Regions from separate parts of the Homo sapiens genome. Here regions 2 and 3 are each linked to region 1. The links come from fine-mapping of genetic effects on gene expression. A gene starts in region 1. Each other region holds a variant in brackets. All regions are shown on one strand. Distances are between the middles of the regions.

Region 1 (8,190 bases):
AGCTGGTGAGAACTAAGGGCACCATTTGGACCAAGAAATAGAACAAAGCTAATTGGCTACACAGGGACTCAACCCGTGTCCTTAGCCTCATTAACTCTGTGCTTTACTAAGCAAGCACACTATTATTCACTCACTCATCAACCTACCTTTTATGAGTCTAGCCTTCAGCTGGGCATTGGTGATATAAAAATGAATGAACCATGGTCTCTGCCCTCAAGGAGCTCGCAGTCCAGCAAGGAAAATCAGGCAGATGAGTAAAATAGTAGTTAGCATACTGTATAATAAATCAGTGCCACAACAGAGATTTATGAAAGCGCTTAGAAGGCACTGCCAATACTGACTGGAGAAGTACAGCATCCATATCTTGTGACAGAATTTGTTGAGCCTAAAATTTTACTTCTTAAATCACTTAGATGCATTTAAATCCCACAGTTGAAAAATAATCTCATTCCTCAGTTGGAAAAGTCAAAAGCACTTTTTTTTTTTTTTCATTTAAACAATGAACATTTATTATCTCACAGTTCCTGTGGGCCAGAAATTCGAGAATAGCTTACCTGGGTTTTTCTGCCTCAGGGTTTCTCATGTGGTTGCATTTAGCATGTCAGCAGTGGTTGCAGTCATTTGAAAGCTTGAACATGGTTAGAGGGTCAGCTTCTAAAATGGCTCATTCGCATGCCTGTTGGCAGGAGGTCACAGTTTGTGTCTGGCTGTTGGCAGGAGTCCTTAGTTCCTTGCCACGTGGACTTCCCCCTAGGCTGCTTGAGTATCCTCATGACATGGCAACTAACTTCCTCCAGAGTGAGCAAACCAGAGTGGGCAAACAGGAAGTGGCAGTACCTTATGTGGCCTAGTCTCTAAAGTTACATACTGTCAATTCTACTCAAAAGTGCCATTTTAAAGTGACCCATACTTTAATGGAAAGCTTTAATTTAAGAACAGAACTTAACGTGTGTTTTACTACCATGTAATCTATGCTAGGCACATCTTTCCAAATTGCATAAGATGGTTTATTTCCAAATAGTCGTTCTCCTATACATTATTTACTTATATAGAGCTAGAAATGCCAACTTGCTGTTTTAAACATAATCATATTTTTCTCCGTAATTATCTGGACAACTAATCCATTTTGCCAATCCATTTGCATGGAAACAGAGAGCCAATGATTGGTCAGAGTATTGTTTTTTAAAAAATATAATAGTGAGGTTCAATGGTTGGTTACCAATTCCCTAAAATAAAGATCGAGGTTTTCTAAAACACTGAAAACACAATTCCATGCACACAGGATTGGTTTATGCTTTTTCAAGGATTCCTCTATTGCTTAAAGCCAGATATACAGGCCATGACACAATTCTACAAGAATGACCCCTTTACTTGATTCTTTTGGTTTAGTCAAGCTTCACTACTACTGTACTAAAAAATAAGCAGTGACCCAGGTTCCTTGCTTTTCTTCCACCTGAACCATAAATGAGACAAATGATCTGGCTCAGCTTATGTCTTGGGGTATGAGAGGTGAATGGTACCCTAGAGGTTTTATTCTTTCTGAAATGACTGCTGAAGCATTTGGAGGAGAAATGATCTTATTATTTAATCCAACCATCTATAAGTTTTGAGGCATGTACCTATGGATGGGGTGAGTGTATAAATAGAAATTACTTCTTATCCTGTGTTGTTTAATGTTATTAATTCAAGACTTTGAAAAGCTCCGTAGAAACAGAATGCATCTTACTGATAAGAATGTGGCTCTTACTGTTGAAATCTCATCGTTGTAATTACACATTATTCAAATCAGGTACTCAGTAGTGAAAACTACTCGTCAAAAGCCAAAACATTTCTACTAGGGATTTTGATGTCCCTGCAGGTCAATAAAGTCATAAAGCTCTGTCACTCTAACGGCAACATATTTTATTAGCAGCCAGAGTCCCTCACATACATGTTTCCTGCCACTTTCAGAGATGTAAACAATTTCCATTTTGAAATATATGACCAGAATCCTGATTATTAGAGCTTAGCACTGCATTCATTAAAACACACATGCTGGCATCGAAGCATTCATGAAACATTATTTCTTCTTTCCAATAAAAACTAATGATTACCACCCCTGGTGTGATTCATTTCCTCTACGAGAATATTTGAATTAGAGCAATATTTTCAAACTTTTCATGGCACTACATACATGGTGTTTTTTTTTCTTCTTTCTCTCTCTCTCTCTCTCTCTTTTTTTTTTTTTTTTTTCAGTCTTGCTCTGTCGCCCAGGCTGGAGTGCAATGGCGCGATCTTGGCTCACTACAACCTCCGCCTTCCAGGTTCAAGTGATTCTACTGCCTCAGCCTCCTGAGTAGCTGGGATTACAGGCACCCGCCACCAAGTCTGGCTAATTTTCCTACATACATGTTTTATAGACCGCTCATGGTTAGAATCATCTTTCATTTATTTCCTTCTGTAGGTTTAAACATTTACATCACTGACATTAAATCCAAATTTACTGAAGACGTATGCACATTTACCTTATTCTGGGTGCTAGGGTCTCTCAGCTGACCACAGCTTCTGTACTTTGCAGTGGTTATTTCACACCAAAAAGTGAAAACAGATTCAGTGAATAGGTGTTCTTTTCTCTATGTATTAAAACACGTTCTTCAAAATAGTGTATTGGCTAGCATGAGTTTTTCTGTATAAAAAAGTCAAGTTTCGCCCTATCAGGTGCTTCTAGGTCTAACCGGTTTTCCTGTGCTACTCTCCAGTGTTACAGCCGGGGGCAGCAGAGCTTTGTCCTGCCTGCCACTCCCGTGATGAGTGAAGGCAGGAATAAGACTGCCCTGGTACTTGCCCCTGATGCAGATCATTAGACCTTGAGCAGCTGCTCAGGTCCATTAACAGTCACTTAAGCAGCGGGTAAGGGAAGCTGTGCTGCTCTGAATTAAAGGTGGGGCTGATAGCTGGGAATGGGGAGGGCTCAGCTGCTAGTACCCAACATATATATTGTGTCACATTTGGGGACACTTTTTTAAACATCATGGAGAGGTTATTTATTGGTTGTCACATACGGTAGGTGAAATGTTTTGCCACAAGTTTTGCCACAAAATGCTATATCCGGTTTAACTGTTTATTTTGATGGCAACTATTATTATTGAATATTTAGGTGGAGTCAATTCTAATGTCAGTCAAGACATATTCATCCCTCCATGTACTGAAAAATGCCATACAAATCTGTATATATGCTTCCTATACTGTTTAACCACAGCTGCTAGTTGACGTTCTTCAGTCCTGGAAATATCCTTCCATTTTCTAAAAAGCAAAGAAAAGTAAAATTTTAAGTAAGCAGTAGAGCAGATGTAGCTTAAAACCTCCAAATTATTTCAGGCCTCAAGCTGCTTTAAGGCTGTATTTTAAGATTCAGTACTTTTTTATTTGTTTCAACAGGAGGATTAGAGGATTGAAAATGCTTTATTGATGGAAAGTGGGAACTGTTACTCCCCCCACCTCCTCTACTCAGCAAAACTAAAAGAGAAAGCAAGTCCATTCAATTCCCAGCCAGATCTTTAAAATGTTAACATCAAATGAAAAGACATTATTCCTAAGTGAGAAGAAAAACCTTTGCATCACTGTAAGTTACCCATCATTTCCCACTTTGATTTATGCATGTGTCATTAATTGAAATTGTTCAGGAATCACCTTCAAATGGTTTTCCACAAAAATAAGAGGAAAAACCAACTGGGATGGGATATCAGTATCTCCTCTATTTAAATACAGGGTCCTGTTAGCTGCATTTGGTGGCTAATAGGGAATGATACTGTGTGCGGTATACTTTCATAATTCCAAGTACAGTCAAGTACATCTAAAACAGTCATTGTTGAATAACATGGGTAATTTAGTATTATCCACGCTATTCCACTGGCAGAATTGGCCATGACTGTCTCCTAGGTCATCATCCAGCGATAAAGGGAAGATAGGCTGAGGAAGCTCTGGCATTCAGGCGTCTCCCAGCGATGAAGCTGTGTCCCACACAGTTAGTTGTCAGTGCGGTGGTGAAGGCCACACCTGGCAGTGGCTACAGTGCGTCTCCTGTGAGCAGGGGCTGTAGCTCACCCTCTCGGAGCTACGCCGTGCTACGGCGGCAGGAGAGGGAGCCCGGGCGCTCTCGGTGGAGGAGGCTGGGGATCGCAGTGCCGGTGCTGCATTCAGAAAAGACTCAGCCGCAGCCGGCGATGTGTGAAGTTCCCAGCACGCACTCAGCCCGGCTGCTCCTCACCCTCAAATGTTGATGAGCCTGGGCGCTCCTCAACACACGGGAGAGATCCCATTTTGCTTTCTGGGAGAAAGAGATGAGAAATGAGCCGCGGAAGGTATTTGGCAATGAGAAGAGTGAAAGGCAGTTTCTTGCCAGCAGCTAAGTTGTAGAATTGCTTCGGAGGCTACCCGGGAGTGCGATAGAATTGACAAGAAAAGAACAGACACCGTTGCAGACCAAGGCATGCCTGATTGCACGAGTCGGATCCCTGGGACGCAGCTTCCACTCCTGTTCTAACTATTTGTGATTGAAAAAAGGAAACGAGACTAGAAACACAATTGCAAGTGGTGTTCCTAAAAGGAAAACACATACACTCCAAAAGGAGGGGAAGAACAACCCAGTTGGCGTGCACATTTTTTTTTAAAGGAGAATTCCTCAGGTATGTTCTTTCCTCCGTTGCACGCACTGCTTCATCTGCATGCGATTTTCTGTCTGTATTTTCCTGTCCCTTCTTTTTGTTTGCACTTGGAAATCACAACCATGGGGTTCTCTTAGCGTAGCAGATATATTTGTAAAATCTCGGCTCTCCTGTTTTTATAATGTACATGATTCTATGGAGCATCATGACTTCTCAGTCATTGCTTTTAAAAAAAGAATTCAGAATGATAAATGACTGCTTAGTTTCCAGTCAACTTTCAGGAGAATATCTACATAGGGACAAATAGGGTTGAGATGAAAGGCTGGGATATTCCATAACCCCTCGGAATTTTGGAAGAAAAAAATAGAGCTCAACAGAGAACAAAAGTTGAGGGCTTCTAGGAAAGGGTTAAAAGCCAAGATGTCATACACTAGTGTGTCACCCAAGTGTTTTTCCAGCTCAGCATCCAGTCTGAAGCAAAAGAAGCTTTACCAATGATTTTTTTATTTCTAGCTCTTCATCAGTTCTTCAAGAAGAAGATCCTGCAGATTTACTTTCAAGAGATGAATTGCTTAAATTGTGTGCTTGGTTCTGTTTTACAACTGTTCTGTGGTGCTCAAGGAGGCAGTCTAAAAAAATCCCTTTGGTCCAACAGCATGAGTAAACCCTAACTTCTGCAATTACATCATCAATATACTTGTATCATCAAGAGTAAGACAGATATACAACAATAGTAATGTTGGCTGTCTTTAGTACCTAGACGGAGATGACAACACTTAAAAATCAATTTTCCTCGTTAGGCTTTTAAGGAAAAACAGGAAAGAGGTTTGAGGGTGGGTAATGCTTATAAAGATTAGTTTTAAAATACTCTGCATTTCTTTAAGAAGCTAAAATTGTAAGTTTATATAATTTTGAAATTAATAAAAAACTTAATGATTTTTAGAAAATCATCTTACCACCTTTTGCTCATCAATACTTTTCATAAAAGTGGGTTAAATTGTCAATAAATTAAATGTGCATATGTCTATATTAAATGAGATTTTCTGGAGGGGAGAAACGAGAATGAGAAAGTACTACATTTTTGTATATATAAAATATTTAATAGATTTTTAGTGTTAACACAGAGTTAATGCCAAAGCTCTAGGACCCTGGCTTTTAATTATTGTTGTTCCCACTTTCTTATGATTAAAAAGTTCAAATGCAATAGAGGTAAGTGGGCTTTAAATTGTCATTTATGCATACTGTAAAGTAAATCACCACCCTGCTCTTTGAAAACTATAAACCTCATTTTTGCCAAATGGTAGCTATCTGGAGCACTTAGGCCGTAAACAAAATGAGGAAATCATTTGTTTTAAAATTCCACGCATGACTATAACAACAACAATGTCAAAATATGGTAAGTATAGGCAATTCTTGATACCAGAGGAGTGATTTAGAAAATGAGCAAAGTATTAAGTTTATGTTTGTTAGTAGGGAGTGAAAAACATTGTGTGTTTCTTCTATGTTGACATCTTGTATAAAGAAGCTTATGATGTCTGTAGGTGAAACACTATAGCAGTAATTTTACTGAATCCATTAAGTAATTTTTTAAACTAATAAACTGATCAAGGATCATCTAAAAGAATATTTGAAACTCTAATTTACAAAATTGTATTTTCAAACTATAATGGAATTTTGTTGAGAAAGTAATTTCAGTAGAATTGCCAATGTTTTTTCAGTAAAATTTGAAGGTGGATAGTAGGTAAGGGTTTATTTCCTAGCATTCAATAATTTGTTGTTAGACCTCCATTAAAGAAATCTGGAAACTCCTTCCAGAGATCATCATCACTATGTGCTAGGTAAATTCATGCCCAGGTGAAATACGAGGTAAAGTGTTAGCAAAGCCTAGAGAAATCACTTTTCATGGGCTTATTGTTAATAAAGTAAACTGTTTTCCTTTCCAGGCCATATAATAACTTGCTATGGTTGCTAATCTTTAAATGTGAAGCAATATAGTTTGTGGTGCACAGAACTAGTTGCTTAAGAGCCCATGGGTCATTGGAAACACAGGATAATTGCAGTGATTCCCCTTTTAAAGACAAAACACACCAAATGTATGTTGGGGCTTAGGTGGGGTTGGGAGGAAGGTCAGTGCAGAAGAGAACGTACTTCGTTGTCTGCTGATTTAGGGCAAACCTCTGTTTTTTGTAATATCAGACACTTTTGGTATGATAATATCTTTTCCCCGATTCTCCAGGCACTTTCATTTCTGTTAACCTTTTCAGCTAATGCAATGCATAAACCCTGCCATAACTTCTCTGAAGTATTATGCCACCTGTACGTTGTCTTCCAGTTTCAACATATATGTTTCTGTTATTCATTCTTTCCATCCCATAGTCTTTACTACGGAAAGGCATTCTCTAGAATTTTTGAAGACATTAGAATCATTTTGTCACCCAAGAAAAACAATCCTGCTTTGCATCTAGAAATTTTAAGAGTTTTAAATACATGCCAAGTTTGTTTCTGAAATACACTTTTATAGCTAGAAAGCCACTTTCTAAATAGGTCATAGTTTGTACCTAATATCAATTCATTTGGTAATATGCATTTAGAATAACTGTAGCAAAAAATTGCAAATTCAAAGTATCAAATTTGTATTTCTGTTGTTATTACAAATCCTTTCTGGATCTTAAGTTGTCTGTGGTTGGATCACTAGGCTCCAACTTTCTTCTAGCTTAAAAAAAAGGATTTATTAATAGCCCTCTCAATCTGTAGCTTTTGAGAATGCAAAAGACTGATCACCGGTTCTATAATCTCTACAGAGAAAATGGATGCCACAGCAGTATTTGTTTCACTTGTAGTCTTTTAAGGCATAGGAAGGGAGACAGGAATAAATATTCTAACCTCTAGGTCAAAAGTCCCCCAGAGGAGAAGTAGACAATAAGACACACTGAATCGTTTCTCCATCTCTTGTCAAAATGGTTGTGATGCAGTAGGCATAAATGTTTCCCATCTCTTTTATATCCTAGTCATATTGTATATTTTAGTCTCAGCATACAGAAATTAATTATAATCTTGATATGGAAGAGAGTTTTATATTATTCTTCCTATGTAAACAGTTAAGAAAATATTTTGTAGAAATAAATGCTAGATAGAAAGATAGGAACTCAACATTATAAATTGTACTCAGAGATTTCGAAGTATTTTTAAAAAGTAATCATAAAAGATGGGCTTCCCTTTCAAATATTTTCTTGTCTCCCTACATTTTCACAATCCCATCTTCAGCCTGTCTTTTGCTCCCAACAGCCAATTTTTGTTGGCCCAAATCCTGCGTTCAGGATAAAACATACTTTGTTTCTGAGCCTTCTGGTTCTTGAGAATCTGGGTGCAATATGTCTTTTTGATGGGGAAAAAGTGTTTTGCATGAAAATATTTTGCTTCATGTGTTTTATAAGTTGAAATTATTTACTCTAGAAGTAGCTTCTCGAAGCATGTAAAATATAAAAGAAAAAGAGCAGTGATTGGACAGAGTGGGTGGCTATTTCCTTTATAGGTGGGAAGAACTAAT
Region 2 (8,190 bases), 38 kb after region 1:
CCCCTCCTCCAGGAAAGAATGTCTTTCACAGATGGAGCTTTGCTTCTGGTTTGCACAGGACAGCGACAATGTGGCAGAGCCATGCCTGCCCTTCCTGCTCTTTCCAGTGATTCACAGAACTTCTGAACAGTGATGCTTGCCTTGGATTTTCAGGTTTTCATCCTGATACTTGTTTACTTTTCTGGGGCAGAAAAGCTTGCACTAATTGCTCTCCATGGTGGCTAATTTTTTCAAGAGCTTGATTTTACCTTACATTCATAAGCTTTGCAAAGGAATGTTTACAAAGAAATTGGGAAATACAAACAAAAACAAAGAGTATCGTCAGCAGAAAAAGGATCAAGACTTCCCCACTGCTGGCCAGACCAAATCCCCCAAATTTTCTTACACTTTTAAAAGCACTGTAAAGAAGATTGCAAAGTGTTCATCCACTCACAACTTATCCACTGAGGAAGACGAGGCCAGTAAAGAGTTTTCCCTCTCACCAACATTCAGTTACCGAGTAGCTATTGCCAATGGCCTACAAAAGAATGCTAAAGTAACCAACAGTGATAATGAGGATCTGCTTCAAGAGCTCTCTTCAATCGAGAGTTCCTACTCAGAATCATTAAATGAACTAAGGAGTAGCACAGAAAACCAGGCACAATCAACACACACAATGCCAGTTAGACGCAACAGAAAGAGTTCAAGCAGCCTTGCACCCTCTGAGGGCAGCTCTGACGGGGAGCGTACTCTACATGGCTTAAAACTGGGAGCTTTACGAAAACTGAGAAAATGGAAAAAGAGTCAAGAATGTGTCTCCTCAGACTCAGAGTTAAGCACCATGAAAAAATCCTGGGGAATAAGAAGTAAGTCTTTGGACAGAACTGTCCGAAACCCAAAGACAAATGCCCTGGAGCCAGGGTTCAGTTCCTCTGGCTGCATTAGCCAAACACATGATGTCATGGAAATGATCTTTAAGGAACTTCAGGGAATAAGTCAGATTGAAACAGAACTTTCTGAACTACGAGGGCACGTCAATGCTCTCAAGCACTCCATCGATGAGATCTCCAGCAGTGTGGAGGTTGTACAAAGTGAAATTGAGCAGTTGCGCACAGGGTTTGTCCAGTCTCGGAGGGAAACTAGAGACATCCATGATTATATTAAGCACTTAGGTCATATGGGTAGCAAGGCAAGCCTGAGATTTTTAAATGTGACTGAAGAAAGATTTGAATATGTTGAAAGCGTGGTGTACCAAATTCTAATAGATAAAATGGGTTTTTCAGATGCACCAAATGCTATTAAAATTGAATTTGCTCAGAGGATAGGACACCAGAGAGACTGCCCAAATGCAAAGCCTCGACCCATACTTGTGTACTTTGAAACCCCTCAACAAAGGGATTCTGTCTTAAAAAAGTCATATAAACTCAAAGGAACAGGCATTGGAATCTCAACAGATATTCTAACTCATGACATCAGAGAAAGAAAAGAGAAAGGGATACCATCCTCCCAGACATATGAGAGCATGGCTATAAAGTTGTCTACTCCAGAGCCAAAAATCAAGAAGAACAATTGGCAGTCACCTGATGACAGTGATGAAGATCTTGAATCTGACCTCAATAGAAACAGTTACGCTGTGCTTTCCAAGTCAGAGCTTCTAACAAAGGGAAGTACTTCCAAGCCAAGCTCAAAATCACACAGTGCTAGATCCAAGAATAAAACTGCTAATAGCAGCAGAATTTCAAATAAATCAGATTATGATAAAATCTCCTCACAGTTGCCAGAATCAGATATCTTGGAAAAGCAAACCACAACCCATTATGCAGATGCAACACCTCTCTGGCACTCACAGAGTGATTTTTTCACTGCTAAACTTAGTCGTTCTGAATCAGATTTTTCCAAATTGTGTCAGTCTTACTCAGAAGATTTTTCAGAAAATCAGTTTTTCACTAGAACTAATGGAAGCTCTCTCCTGTCATCTTCGGACCGGGAGCTATGGCAGAGGAAACAGGAAGGAACAGCGACCCTGTATGACAGTCCCAAGGACCAGCATTTGAATGGAGGTGTTCAGGGTATCCAAGGGCAGACTGAAACTGAAAACACAGAAACTGTGGATAGTGGAATGAGTAATGGCATGGTGTGTGCATCTGGAGACCGGAGTCATTACAGTGATTCTCAGCTCTCTTTACATGAGGATCTTTCTCCATGGAAGGAATGGAATCAAGGAGCTGATTTAGGCTTGGATTCATCCACCCAGGAAGGTTTTGATTATGAAACAAACAGTCTTTTTGACCAACAGCTTGATGTTTACAATAAAGACCTAGAATACTTGGGAAAGTGCCACAGTGATCTTCAAGATGACTCAGAGAGCTACGACTTAACTCAAGATGACAATTCTTCTCCATGCCCTGGCTTGGATAATGAACCACAAGGCCAGTGGGTTGGCCAATATGATTCTTATCAGGGAGCTAATTCTAATGAGCTATACCAAAATCAAAACCAGTTGTCCATGATGTATCGAAGTCAAAGTGAATTGCAAAGTGATGATTCAGAGGATGCCCCACCCAAATCATGGCATAGTCGATTAAGCATTGACCTTTCTGATAAGACTTTCAGCTTCCCAAAATTTGGATCTACACTGCAGAGGGCTAAATCAGCCTTGGAAGTAGTATGGAACAAAAGCACACAGAGTCTGAGTGGGTATGAGGACAGTGGCTCTTCATTAATGGGGAGATTTCGGACATTATCTCAATCAACTGCAAATGAGTCAAGTACCACACTTGACTCTGATGTCTACACGGAGCCCTATTACTATAAAGCAGAGGATGAGGAAGATTATACTGAACCAGTGGCTGACAATGAAACAGATTATGTTGAAGTCATGGAACAAGTCCTTGCTAAACTAGAAAACAGGACTAGTATTACTGAAACAGATGAACAAATGCAAGCATATGATCACCTTTCATATGAAACACCTTATGAAACCCCACAAGATGAGGGTTATGATGGTCCAGCAGATGATATGGTTAGTGAAGAGGGGTTAGAACCCTTAAATGAAACATCAGCTGAGATGGAAATAAGAGAAGATGAAAACCAAAACATTCCTGAACAGCCAGTGGAGATCACAAAGCCAAAGAGAATTCGTCCTTCTTTCAAAGAAGCAGCTTTAAGGGCCTATAAAAAGCAAATGGCAGAGTTGGAAGAGAAGATCTTGGCTGGAGGTATTCATGTTTAAATGCTACATTGTGAGCTAATTGTGTTTTAACATTGGGTAGCACTTCTTTAGAGCATGCTCTGTGTTTACTTGGGTGAAAGAGTTTACTTGCAATGACTTTCCATGCTTTACTCTGAGGAGCATTTTGTTTTACTCAGGCAGCTCTCCTAAGAAGTTGGGCTTGATGATTTAAAATCAAAGAATATGTTAAATGGGTCATATTGGAATGAGCCCAAACTTAACCCAACACATTGTGGATCAGATTTCTCTGCTAAATTTAGGCACAAACCCCATTTAACATCAACTAACTTTGTGGCATCAGTTGTCAAACAAAAGTTGAGTGAAACCAAAGGTTAAGCCAACAGCCTGGCATCTATTTCTTGGTTCCATTAAGTTTACAGGGATGGAGAAAAAGGTGTAATCTTAAAAAAAAATGTGAAAAGATGGACTCTGAGACTTAACCACTCATTTTCCTATCCATTCAACAATTTAGGGGTTGCCCATAGGAAAAGTTGTGTGTGCACAGGACAGTCCCATGGAAGACCATGGACTCCCTTACAACCTACTGGCACAGTCAGGGAGAGCAATAGAGCCAAGGCCCTAGGTCATGTCTGAGTGGTCACAAGCTATTCTTTGAGAAGAGATCAGTAAGGGGATAGAGTTGAGTGGTTACCTTCTTAAGAATAAAGTCCCTTCTCCACCATGGAAATGAGAAGAGTACCTTAACTAACTATTTTAATTGCTTTCTTGTGGGAACAACTTTGGATTATATACTTTTGGAAAGTGATAGTTATATGTAAATGTAAGAGTTTGTTTACTTTCTATTTCTCAACCCAACTTCCTCCGCACTTATTCCACTCCCTTACCATTTATTTTAGTTGCATGCTAATTACTTACATTTTTGGAATAGTCTGTTACTATCTAAATTTAAATGAATTGCATATTATTATTATGTTCCCTGATCATGGGATTGTCATCATTAA[T/C]TAAGCTATTACTCTACATAATACTTCATAAAGGTGTATATGACCAAGTGTTACTTGCTATTATCAAATAACATAATAATATCTGCAGCCAGTAGCTGGTTATATCTTCTCTGTCTTGACCAAAGCTGTGATCAAACTCCCCTAAATGAGCCATTTTGTGGTTGATGTGAGTAGATTATTGAATAATCAGAAATCTTTACTGCTAAACTATTTGAATTTCTAAGACAACTGAAATAACTAGGGTTTGCCACTCTAAAAATCTATCTTTATAAAACAACACAGTTTATGTAATTTATTTAGGAATGATATAAGTCAAAGGGATCTTGAATGCACTGGCTGTTGCAACATTTTGTGTTTTTGTTTTTTTTGCAGGGATGGGTAGTTCTCAACTATATTTAAAACTGATTTAAGAGTGAAAAGTAGTCAAATGTTATGCAAATGTAATGCATATGGTAATAATATCTATCTTATATTGGAGTGATTTTTGAGAGTCGGATATCCTTGTTACTGAAATTCATTTGCTATTTCTTGGGATACAGGCCAGCAGTTTGACAATGTATTTTATTTGCTGTTGATTCAGAGTTTACTCAAAGGCAAATGAAGACTAAGAAGTGCATGAGCATGTGTGTGTGTGTGTGTGTGTGTGTGTGTGGTTTGTATATATCTGTTGTGACATAATAGAGAAATGTTTTAATGGCAGTTGGTTAATGTAGTTGCTTGAAATGTTAGGCAATATCATAAATAGGACAAGATGATACATTTCAGAAAAATGGATCTTCTTCAACTTCTAAAAATTCCAAATTAGCAAGCCTCTGCAAAGCAGATTGTTACTGATGGTGACCCTTCAGCCAGCTAACAAACTTAGTCATCCAGTGAGTGGCACTTAACCTTGGAATACACACATGCTCTTGGTTATCTATAGCCACCTGGTTAAGAATAAAACCACGGATAAAACAATCCTGTGCCATTTACCTGCATATGAGGCCTGGCTATAGAGGACTCAGACCCCTCCATCCTCTTGGAGCTTGGCTTCTTATTATCCTGTGAGCCAACTTTGAATGGAATCTGTTGGATATCATCTGTCCTAGAGGAAATCAGCACACACATCTTTAAGATGGTCTCTGGTTGCTGAAAGGTACCAGATTGACTACCCAGGAAGCTGCGGTAGCCTAGATTTTAAAGGCTATCTCTGCTCCCCTTGGCAGCAGTCAGGCAGTTTTCCCCATCCTGTGCCACCCATATGCCTCTGAAGGAAGGACAGCCAAAGAAGGACATTTTCCAGGCCCCTTTCCTGCTCAGAGCATCCCAAAGAGGTGCCAATTGTCATGATGGTTTCTGTTCCCATGGCCATCTGCTTACTGGGCTTTGGGAAGATGCCAACATATTTTTTCTCTCCATGGCTACGTAGTTATCACGAGGTAGCAGTGCTGTCTTTTCTCCATAAGTAACCTTAGCCAGATTGGAGTGCAGAGCTCTTGCTGTCAAACTGTGGGATGCTGTCTCTCTGACACAGCTTTATGGAATTATAAGCTCACACATTTGAATTATTTATTTCAACTGTTGTCTTCAGGATCCAGAGGACCAGAAAACTCCAATGTTTATAGATGTGGATATTTGATGATAATGTTTCAGAGAACTTTCCACCTTAAACAGCATTCCAGTAGGAAGAGACCTTAGAGTGTGTGTAGCCAGAAGCTTCCCCATGAGTCAAATTCTTCCATTGTTGCTGGCCCCTGCTGAGTTGGCACCATTTGTGCAGCTGTCTTGATTCCTACACCATGATGGTGACTCTCTGATCCCCCACCTTCAGCCTTGTACCACCTATCAACTGGAATTAACTATTTATTGTCTCCTCAAAATTCCCATGTACTTGCCTCTTATCACACTGACTCTCATATTTATGTGCATTTCTCATTTTCTATTCCAGAATAGTCTAGAGGCAAGTTGTCTTTTTTTTTAATCCTTTAACTTGTACTGTGCCTAGACCAGTGTTTTATACCCATATGGCATTGAGTTAATATGTGTTGGATAAATGCCTGAATCAAGAGAGGTGGGATACTAAATAAAAAAACACAAACTTTAAAGTCAAATCCAAATTCAAACTGTGGCTTTTAATCGCTAAGACTATGACTTTATCTCCTGAGAACTCAGAAGAATAGACATAAAAGCTTATTACTCAGAATTACTATATATTAGGCCCTTTCCAGGCTGTTTACCTGTTTTTCATTCTTTTACTTCTTATAACACCACTATTAATTTTATTTTATTATTATCCCATTTTACAGGTGAGGAAGCAGATGCTGAAAACTTACCTAGCTTAATGTCATTCAGCTAATAAGTGGTGGATCCAGAATTACATGGATTGTTACTTTGGCTATTTAGAGCAGCAGTATGCTTATTCACTTCAAAGGTTGTTTTTATTCAAGTTTTAAGTTGGAAAAACTGATAAGAGATGAAGAACAGAGTCAGCCACTAGGTTTAGTTCAACTCAGAGATATTCACGAGAAACCAGTATGAATATGAAAGGCACTAAGTTTCTGGGACTCTCAGGTTTTGATGTGAAATAGTTCATTCTCAGTGTTTCTACTTCAAATCCCTGGTTCATTTTATAAATCAAGATTTGTAGAGTGCAATAAATACTGTACTATAACAGCTGCTTGAAGGATGTTGTATTTGCAGTCTGATACACTTTACCTGAAATCAGAACCTGACGTCAGTTTGAAGTATTAATAGTTTTCCTAGCAGAAGACCAAAAATCTTGTTCTGAAAGAGACTGTGATATCGGAAATTAGCATACTTCCTAGTTTTTACATCATGTATATATTCTGTTTTCTGAATGGTTATAAAACTGTCAGAATATGTTGACTTCCAAGTAAGGATATAAAACTGAAGGTATTAAAATTTCCTAAGGTAGATACTTTGTTAGACTAGTGGTTCCTAATCTGGCTGGTTGTTAGAATCATCTGGAAAGCTTTTGTAGTAGTTGTTCCTGGGATGTTATTTTAAAATGACCAATTATTAGCATATTTTCACAGATTATTGTGACTTGGTGGTCCTACAACGGGGCCAGGCATATGCCTTTAAATTACACGAGTTACTGATGTAATATATGCCCTTTAATAAAACAACAGCAACAACCACACACACAATTAAAAACATAATAAAACAAAATCTAAAATGAAAAGTAAAAAAGCTCACCTGTGGACAGTCCAGGTCAGGAGGATGCAGTCTGGCTATTCAGATGCTCCCTTGACGGTTCTGAGGGATGTGATCATCAGAACACATTTGAAGAGCACTACTAAAAGCTATGTAGCAAATATACCTGCTCACACGGCGTTCTTAATTTCCCCCTTTTTAAACTTGAAAGAGATAAAATCAGTCTAAGGAAAAATATTAATAATTTTTTTCTTTTTTTCTTTTTTTTTTTTTTGAGATGAAGTCTCATTCTGTCACCCAGACTGGAGTGCAGTGGCACGATCTCAGCTCACTGCAACCTCCTCCTCCTGGGTTCAAGCGATTCTCCTGCCTCAGCCTCCCGAGTAGCTGAGACTACAGGCATGCACCACCACGCCCAGCTAATTTTTTTTTTTTTTTTTTTTTTAATTAGAGATGGAGTTTCACCATATTATCCAGGCTGGTCTCGAACTCCTGACCTCGTGATCTGCCTGCCTTGGCCTCCCAAAGTGTTGGGATTACAGGCGTGAACCACCACACCCGGCCGATTTTTCTTAACTTAAAAACAAAAGATGTTTTGTCAACCTTTCAGAGTTAAGTAGATTATTACATTTTGTGAAAAGGCTTTAGTAATATCTACATATGAAAATAGAGCAATAAAGATGTATTCCTTAAAAGGTATGTATGAATTTAAAATTTTAGAAATCATCTGTATCAAAAGTCCTAGGGGATTTTCCTGTAGAAACCATTTAGTGCATAATTTTGCCTACAAATAAATTCCTATCCTTCCACATTTTATCTGACAACTTGGGGCTTTTTTTTTGTTTGTTTTTGGTAAATCTT
Region 3 (8,190 bases), 150 kb before region 1:
TTATCTCTCAATCTGCCCTTCCCCCAGGCTTCTTAATAGAATGAATGACACCATTACATTCAATTGCTGAATCAAAACACAAAACAAAATATAATAAAACAGAAACAAAAATCTAGGAGTCATTGACTTACATGGTCCATAACAAACCCATCAGTAAATTCTGTTGTTTCTACCTCTAAAACATATGCTATATCCTCTCCCTTTTTTCATCTCTGTAGCCACCACCCCAGTCCAAAACACCATCCTTTCTTATAAAGACTACAGTTTCCTTTCAACCAGCCTGTCTGCTTTCACTCTTTAACCTCTTCCCCTGTTCTTTCCCCATATATCAGTCATCATGATTTTTTAAAAAATATGAATTGCATTAATTCAGTAATCTCATGATAAAACTTTAAAGACTTTCCATTGACTTAGAATAATATTAAAAATCTTTACTGGCATGTTCTTAACACATTTTGTTCAAATGACCTAGAAATTTAAAATGGACAACTAAGAGTAAATATTGGAGAAAAATTCCTGGCATTAAAAAAATAATATTTTAAAATAAAAAGGTCATATTTCTTCTAAAGATATCCAATTAATTGTTAAAGATAATAAGCAAAATATTTTGTAATATTGTCTCTTAGTGAGATGGATGGGACTTTTTTTTATTAGACCATATTTCTAGAGATTAACTTTTTTTATAGCTAGAATAAGATGGAGTTCAGAGTTCAGCATTAGTTTCATCCCTAATGTGTGCTTTAGGATTATTTTTTGCATAGGCAAATGTCAATTATATAGGTTGTCCAAATATGCCTTAAGAAGCTTAATAATTCATCTTAAGAGATGAATTCTTAAGAATTCTTGTATGTGGTTACCTATGTAATTTTATTTCATAGTCAAAAACTATTAAATCTGTAATTATGCATTTGACAAACCAAGCACATTCTTATCAACATCTGAGAGAGTGGAATTCAACCTAATTAAACAAAACTTTACTTCTATATTTCAGAGCATAACTTTCTGGATTGTAATTTGGGAACATTTTGTTCTACACCTGTACTTCAATGGATATTAGAGAGGACTTTAATCAACTTTGTAGAAATTAACAGCAGCAATAAGAGAATGAATTAAGTATGAGCTTATGAATAATACACTATTTACAGAAGAATCTGTAACATTTGATTGTAAACCAAAAATAAAATTCTAAGTCCCCCAACCATCTAAATGGACCCTTCTTCTCAGCCAAGGGCATTCCAAAGTTAACCTGGAAAACTAGTTCAGGCTGTGACAGGAAGGAGTTGAACATACCTCATTACACTCTCCTCCCTTTTGGAATTCGGGCCCACTTGACCAGCATTAATATCAACACAGACCTTAAGACTGATAGACTGTCTGAGTCTGGCAAGAAACATTTACAGTCTATTCTCTGAAGCCTGCTACCTGGAGGCTTCATCTGCAATAAAACCTTGGTCCACACAGCACATTATCTTAACCCTGACATTTCTTTCTGTTGATTTTAAATCTTTAGACAATACTTAACTCTTTTAACCAATTGTCAATCAGAAAATATTTGAATCTACCTCTGACCTGGAAGCCACCCCACCACCACCTTTCCGGACCAAACCAATGTACCTCCTACATGTATTGATTGAAGTCTTATGTTTTCCTAAAATGTATAAAGCCAAGGTGTAGCCTGACCACCTTGCGTCCATGTTCTCAGGATCGCCTGAGGGCTGTGTCATGGGCCATTGGTCACTCATATTTGGCTCAGAGTAAATCTCTTCAAATATTTTACAGACTGTACTAGTTAGTTTTCATACTGCTATGAAGACATACCTGAGACTGGGTAGTTTATAAAGGAAAGAGGTTTAATTGACTCACCATTCCACATGTCTTGGTTAGCCTCAGCAAACTTACAATCTTGGTGGAAAGCATCTCTTCACAGGACAGCAGGGAAGAGAATGAGTCCCAACTGAAGGAGGAAGGCCCTTATAAAACCATCAGATCTCGTGAGAACTTACTATCATGAGAATAGCATGGGGGAACTGCCCCCATGATACAATGATCTCCCACTGGGTTCCTTTCACCACATGTAGGGATTATGGGAACTACAACTGAAGATGAGATTTGGGTGGGGACACAGCCAAACCATATCACAGAGCTTGACTCTTTTCATCTATAGATTATTACATTTAAATCTGTTAATTGAAATCTAATAAATGAATCATGGGAATAAATAAAAGAGTAGGTAAGTGACTGAATGACAAACAGGAAAATTTCACCTAGTAAAATAAACAAGTATGATTTTATAGTATCCAATCATCTTTTAGCAACAATAAATGAGATGTATCTTTTCCAATGCTGAATAAATATTTAAGAAAAAGAAAACCCCTCCATCTTATCTTAAATATATGTGTACCTTCTTTTTTATATAATATTGACATGAAGAAAATAAACTTAGAAAATTATTTGACTCCTTACTTAAAAAGATCATGCAAAACATGCAATTGAGACACAGGCTAACTCATGGACAGAAGTAGTGTGTAATATCTCTTGGCTGTTTTGCCAGAACTCACCCCAAAAATGGCTTTCCTTTGTGAACCCTGAATATCTGAGACAGGTCTCAGTTAATTTAGAAAGTTTATTTTGCCAACGTTGAGGATGTGCACCCATGACACAGCCTCAGGAGGTCCTAATGACATGTGTCCAAGGTGGTTGGGGCACAGCTTGGTTTTATACACTTTAAGGAGACATGAGACATCAATCAATATATGTAAGATGTACATTGGTTCTGTCCAGAAAGGTGGGACAACTCAAAGCAGGGAGGCAGCTTCCAGGTCACAGGTAGGTGAGAGAAAAATAGCTTCATTCTTTTAAGTATCTGATTAGGCTTTCCAAAGGAAGCAATCAGATATGCATCTATCTTAGTGAGCAGAGGGATGACTTTGAATAGAATGGCAGGCAGGTTTGCCCTAAGCAGTTCCCAGCTTGACTATTCCCTTTAGCTTAGTGATTTGGGGGCCCCAAGATTTATTTTCCCATCAAATTTCCCCCCTTTTCTTTTAAAAATATTTGGAGGAAGCATTTTAGAAGACAGTGAGTCTCTGGTCTGGTCTCTCATGGCTAGGACAGTTTATTCCTAGATGGGTAGGTTTTAGGTTATTAGGAAAGCTCATTTTTAGCAGCTTGTGAAGTCTCATGTCCTGTGAAGAGAAAACAGAGGGAGGAAGGGAGAAAAACAACAACAACAAAAAGAACAATCCTAGAAAATTAATATAGCCACATTGCTCTGAAGTCCATATATCAATAGGCAGGTATGAAAGCGGCTTATGTATATAAATAAGTTGTTATTTTCTTCTGAAGTTTAAGTTGTCTAGCTTCAGTTTGCTAGGATTTAAGAAAGCATGGCTTAGTTTCCAGTGATTTCAAACTAGGAAAAATGGGGAAAAAAGGTAAAGAAAGAAAAAAAAATTGAAAGCATTATTTTGGAGACTTATAGCCAGGAAAAATTAGAATTCAGTCCAAAGTGTAGAAAATAATAAAATTTGAAAAACATTAGGCAAAACTAGAATGTAACAACAAGTATGCTGTAGTTTTTGAAACATATTTTTTTCTCTCTCCAGTTTCCCATTTTTACTAAAGACAAATCATGGTAGGACCAATTTGCTTTATTATACTAGGCCAGATTATTTGTATAAAGTGCAGCAGGAATAATTATTTTTTCCACATAGGCTTTTTAAATTGGCTTTGATGAAACTTTGTTCCATAGAGGGAATCTCAGATAAGACTACTGTAAAACCAAGCCCAGCCATGGATTTGTACCATCAAATATCTACGAGTTGGGTGAATTCCACTCCTCTTGTGGTCCCCAAAAAACCTGGGGCTCCTGGGCCTGTCAGAAAATGACATTCTTTACTTACCACAGGACAGGAACTGGGACAGGAACTGCGTAGACAAGGTATGAAGCCAGTTTTCCTAAGGGGCTTTTATTGGCAACTCTATAGGTCAAGTTTAATTTCTTAAAGGAAATCACACCATTCCAGTCAAAGCCTTGGTAAAATAAGCAGTTTCTCCAATTGTGTTCTGTTACAAATGAAAACTGATTCTTATTGCACTTATGCAAATAACTATTGCCATAGTTAAGAATACTCACAAATAGTTTCTGAATTCTGGAGAAATAAGGTAGAGAGAAACAAATATGCTCCACATTTTGTTCAGGAGCATACTTAATTGTTAAAAGCTGTCAATAGCTCAAAATAAAAGTTTTCTTGACTCTGAAAAACAAAACAAAGGATCAGCAATGTTTTAAGCAAGAAGTCTAAAAATCACTTCTGTCTTCTATTAGTTCAGCCCATGCAGCTAATTCCTTGATACTCATGAACATTTCAGCTCTCCATGAGTCCTGAAAATTTTTCCTCTATTCTGATATCACAGTCTCCAAACTTGTCAGAAACCTGCATTCAATAGCACCTGTTAGAGTTTTATAGCTGATTATAAAACCACCTTCTAAAGTGGACCAAAACAAAACAACTGTCTGTAGATGACAAGATGTTTTAGGGCAGCCGTTGTCAAAGACACAATTGACAAGGAAATTGTTACGTCTGTGGCACACAATAATTTAACATAACAATTATGATTAGTATGGATAATGTACACTAAGTCATATCAGAATTACAGGAGTTATTCATAATTTTGGAACACATACCAATAACATATTTATACGACTACAGCCGAAAGAAAACCAAACACCATTTCATATTTGACAATGCTTCCTGTACACTTTTTATACTAAATAAGCCAAATATCTCATTTTTGGACTTTAGGGAAGCTAATATCTTAAAGGATTAATTAGGTCAGAAAAAGACATAATTTATAATTTGATTTTGGAAAGTTTGTCAAATATCAAAGGTTAAAATACTTGATATCACAACATAGGATCACAGGTCATTGTCAGATAAGTCATTCATTTAACTGGAGTGATA[G/T]CTCAAGGATTTTTTTTAAAAATAGTGAAAACCTTCATTCTTTGAGAGAGGAGACTTAATTTTCCAAATACTAAGCCCTAATACAACAGGATGAAGCCAATTAAATTTGTTTTTCTAAACAATCTATAAAATTTTAATTTTGACCATAAGATATAGCTTCCGTAAGACTTTTATAACCATTATTAAGGAGTCAGTTAATGCTTCAAGAAAACCTTGTTAACCTGACACAGGGGCCCATATGCTGGTCTTGTATCAGTGTGTGCTTGACATTGATGGTTAATTTATAGAGAAAATGTAATTATTTTCTCTCTCAAAATTGGCCCTTACAATCTCACACACCCACCTCTTCTGCAATAGTCCCTGAGCCTCGAGGAGTTGAATAGCTTTAATTTCTGGTCCTGTGTGTCAAGAACACAGTTTATTTTGATTGGCATCTTCTACTGAGCCTGAAGATGAGGCTTTCATTGCTGTCAGTGTTTAAGACTTACCAGGACTTGATGTCCTTTTTAGACCTAGGAATCAAAGCCCTGTAACTCAGTGTCACAAGGACTTTAAAAGCACATACAGAAAGATACGCAGGTGTAATAACCTTAATTAAAAATAATTTTAATCTCAAAGTTTTTTCTAAACAAACCAAAACTTAATAATAATGGCATAGGAATTACTCAATAAAAGATAAAATCTGTTAGGTCAGTTACCAGAAGGCAAAAGAAAAGACCTGCAGTGCACAGAAAATTATGTTGGAAGAAAACATTTCCTTTATACCTTTAAGAAAACATTGTTAGCATCAGGCAACAACAAACAGAACCTGAGGGGGAAAAAACCTTAAATGAGCTGAAAATGAGTTGAAGGAGAGTGTTACTATCTAAAGTGGGTCTTTGGTAAAATGAGGCTCACAGTCACTGATTCTTAGAGTATACTTCAGATACAGATTTTAATACATACCTTTCTCTTCAGATTTTTTTCTAAAAAGACTTAGAGTTATAGAGTTTCAATGGATACCATGGCATTTTGTTTAATTTTTTCTACTTACAGGGTCAGTATCACTTTCAGAAAATTATAGCATTAAAAATGTATAATTTTAAATAGTATGTTTTTTCCAGAAAAGTTTTTTAAAATTTAAATATAATTGAGTAATAATTTTTAAAAAGATAAGATGGTTTCATCATTAATTTTTTTTTTCAAATCAGATACTTTATGCACCTGTGGTTTTCTTTTTTTAGCTTAATTCTTTTAAAAATTACAATTCAGATTGCAGATACGGTCACAGCAGGCTACCTTTTTAAGGTACGGGTCATTGTATGAGAACATATGTACTTGTTTGTTCTCAAAAAACAGATTCAGCAAGAAATAGGGTATGGTATTTATTCATGCAAGATAGAGTTTTGTAAAATACATGGTAACTTTAGGATATATTTTGTATATTATTTCGAACTTGGTATATGAGCCCATTAATACTATTTTATTTTTCTACATGACAAACAAGAAATATGGATAATCCTAGAATTTTTTTTTTATTGTAAAAGTAAAACATATCAAAGATGGGGAAGTTGAAGGAATAAAATACCATACCATTGGCAGTGCAATGGTTTGGAGCACAGACTTTAGGATCTAATTGACTAGATTCAAATTTCACCTGTGCCATTTACTAAAAGCATGTACTTGGCAATGCTATTTTACCTGTCTGGGCCTTAGTTCCTTTATTTGCAATGTGGAGATCATGTTAATAGTAACCATACCATAAGGTTGTTGTGAGATGAAATGAGAATTCAGGTAATCCATCTGGCTGTATTCACTAAGTATTCACTAAGCATTGCTAGCATCATTTAAGACTACCAGCTGATGATTTCCTAGTGTGCTTTTCCTCATGTATTTTTTCACATTTGTTATAAAAATATATGTATGTACATAGATAGCAACTTGATTTTCTTTCTTTTAAAATTAACATGTAATAATGCTTATTCTTTATAACTACAACGTTGCTAAACACTCTTTGTAGTCACACACAAAAAAAATGCAGACAACACACTGGCTCAAAAATCTTGTCCTGGTCATAGTAACCATTTAAAGTGCTTTTCCTAGAGCATCTGAGAACACTGATCCAAGTAACTGAGAGCAACCCTTTTCATCTGTGAGAAGGCACAATGTTACAGAAAATTAGATGCTTGTCCCAAGGGAAATTAGATATTCATTTTCACAATGTGTCTTCTGAGGGCACTTATAATGGGTTCCTCATGCTGGCTGCCTCAGTGATAGCTATGTGACTTAAGCCAGTGTCTCTTAGGGAAACTCCCGTTTTCCCTCGTCATCAGTTGCTATCTTGTTTCACCCAGAATGGAATTCCCAGAAGACTGCTGAACAAGAAGAAAGCTCTAACATTTTGTGGATTAGAAATATCAGAAGGCTGCTATATTCTGTAGGAGGGAAGAATAATTCAGAAAATGTCAATTCTGGCTGGGCACGGTGGCTCACACCTGTAATCCTAGCACTTTGGGAGGCCGAGGTGGGCAGATCACTTGAGGTCAGGAGTTCGAGACCAGCCTGACCAACATGGTGAAACACTGAATCTGCTAAAAATACAAAAATTAGCCAGAAGTTGCTTGAACCCAGGAGGTGGAGGTTGTAGTGAGCTGAGATTGTGTCACTGCACTCCAGCCTGGGCAACAGAGCAAGACTCCATCTCAAGAAAAAAAAAAAAAAGAAAGAAAGAAAATGTCAATTCTGTAATCTGGGTGAGTGCATTCTCCTTTTTCTCCTGTGGGACAGAAAGGGAATTTCTCCATTTTGTTTAACATCTGACATAATGTGATCATGAAACATGTAATGAATGCCTGCTGTGGGTCAGGAACTTTTCTAGGTCCTGGGGCTTGAACTCTGTTCTTCAGAAACTCCGATGTGTCGTATGTATCCAGACTCATCCTATGATTCAAGTTTTTTCATGATTTGACCTTACCCATTCAGCCAAACTTACCTCCTACATAATGCTCCACTGTGACCAACTCACCTGACTTCATTTATTCATGTCACAGATCCTAGTGAGTGCTTACCACAAGTTGGGTATGTTGTAGGAACTGCAGATATGGAGGCAATCTAAATGAAGTCCCTGCTTTCATAATTTTTAAAACCAGTATGAGATTCAGACTATAAACAAACATGATAACAGTAAATGTCATTATGCAGAAAAAATAAGAATGGAAGGAGAGAAAGCAACTTAGATGGATATATG

Direction of the effects. Positions count from the first base shown, and alleles are read on the strand shown. Sizes are in standard deviations (SD) of each study's normalised expression.
In carriers of allele C in region 2, the expression in prefrontal cortex of the gene that starts at base 4,178 in region 1 tends to be lower than with T alone (small effect, 0.23 SD a copy in CommonMind).
In carriers of allele G in region 3, the expression in thyroid of the gene that starts at base 4,178 in region 1 tends to be lower than with T alone (moderate effect, 0.63 SD a copy in GTEx).

Evidence for each region. PIP is the estimated chance that this variant, and not a neighbour inherited with it, causes the effect.
Region 2: its variant is fine-mapped to the expression of UNC13C in prefrontal cortex (CommonMind, PIP 0.95).
Region 3: its variant is fine-mapped to the expression of UNC13C in thyroid (GTEx, PIP above 0.99).

The regions. Positions count from the first base shown.
Region 1 is chr15:53,974,264-53,982,453 of GRCh38, forward strand. UNC13C (unc-13 homolog C) reads left to right here and starts at 4,178. Exons shown (of 33, transcript NM_001080534.3): 1 at 4,178-4,664. LOC124903495 (a long non-coding RNA gene) reads right to left here. Exons shown (of 2, transcript XR_007064646.1): 2 at 3,087-3,282.
Region 2 is chr15:54,012,690-54,020,879 of GRCh38, forward strand. It overlaps UNC13C (unc-13 homolog C), which reads left to right. Exons shown (of 33, transcript NM_001080534.3): 2 at 1-3,197. The coding sequence starts at 215. Among named protein-coding and RNA genes, the nearest start is that of UNC13C, 38 kb to the left of the region's middle. The variant T/C (reference allele first, on the strand shown) is at 4,174.
Region 3 is chr15:53,820,281-53,828,470 of GRCh38, forward strand. No RefSeq gene overlaps it. Among named protein-coding and RNA genes, the nearest start is that of WDR72, 65 kb to the left of the region's middle. RefSeq lists an enhancer at 1,976-2,145. The variant G/T (reference allele first, on the strand shown) is at 4,965.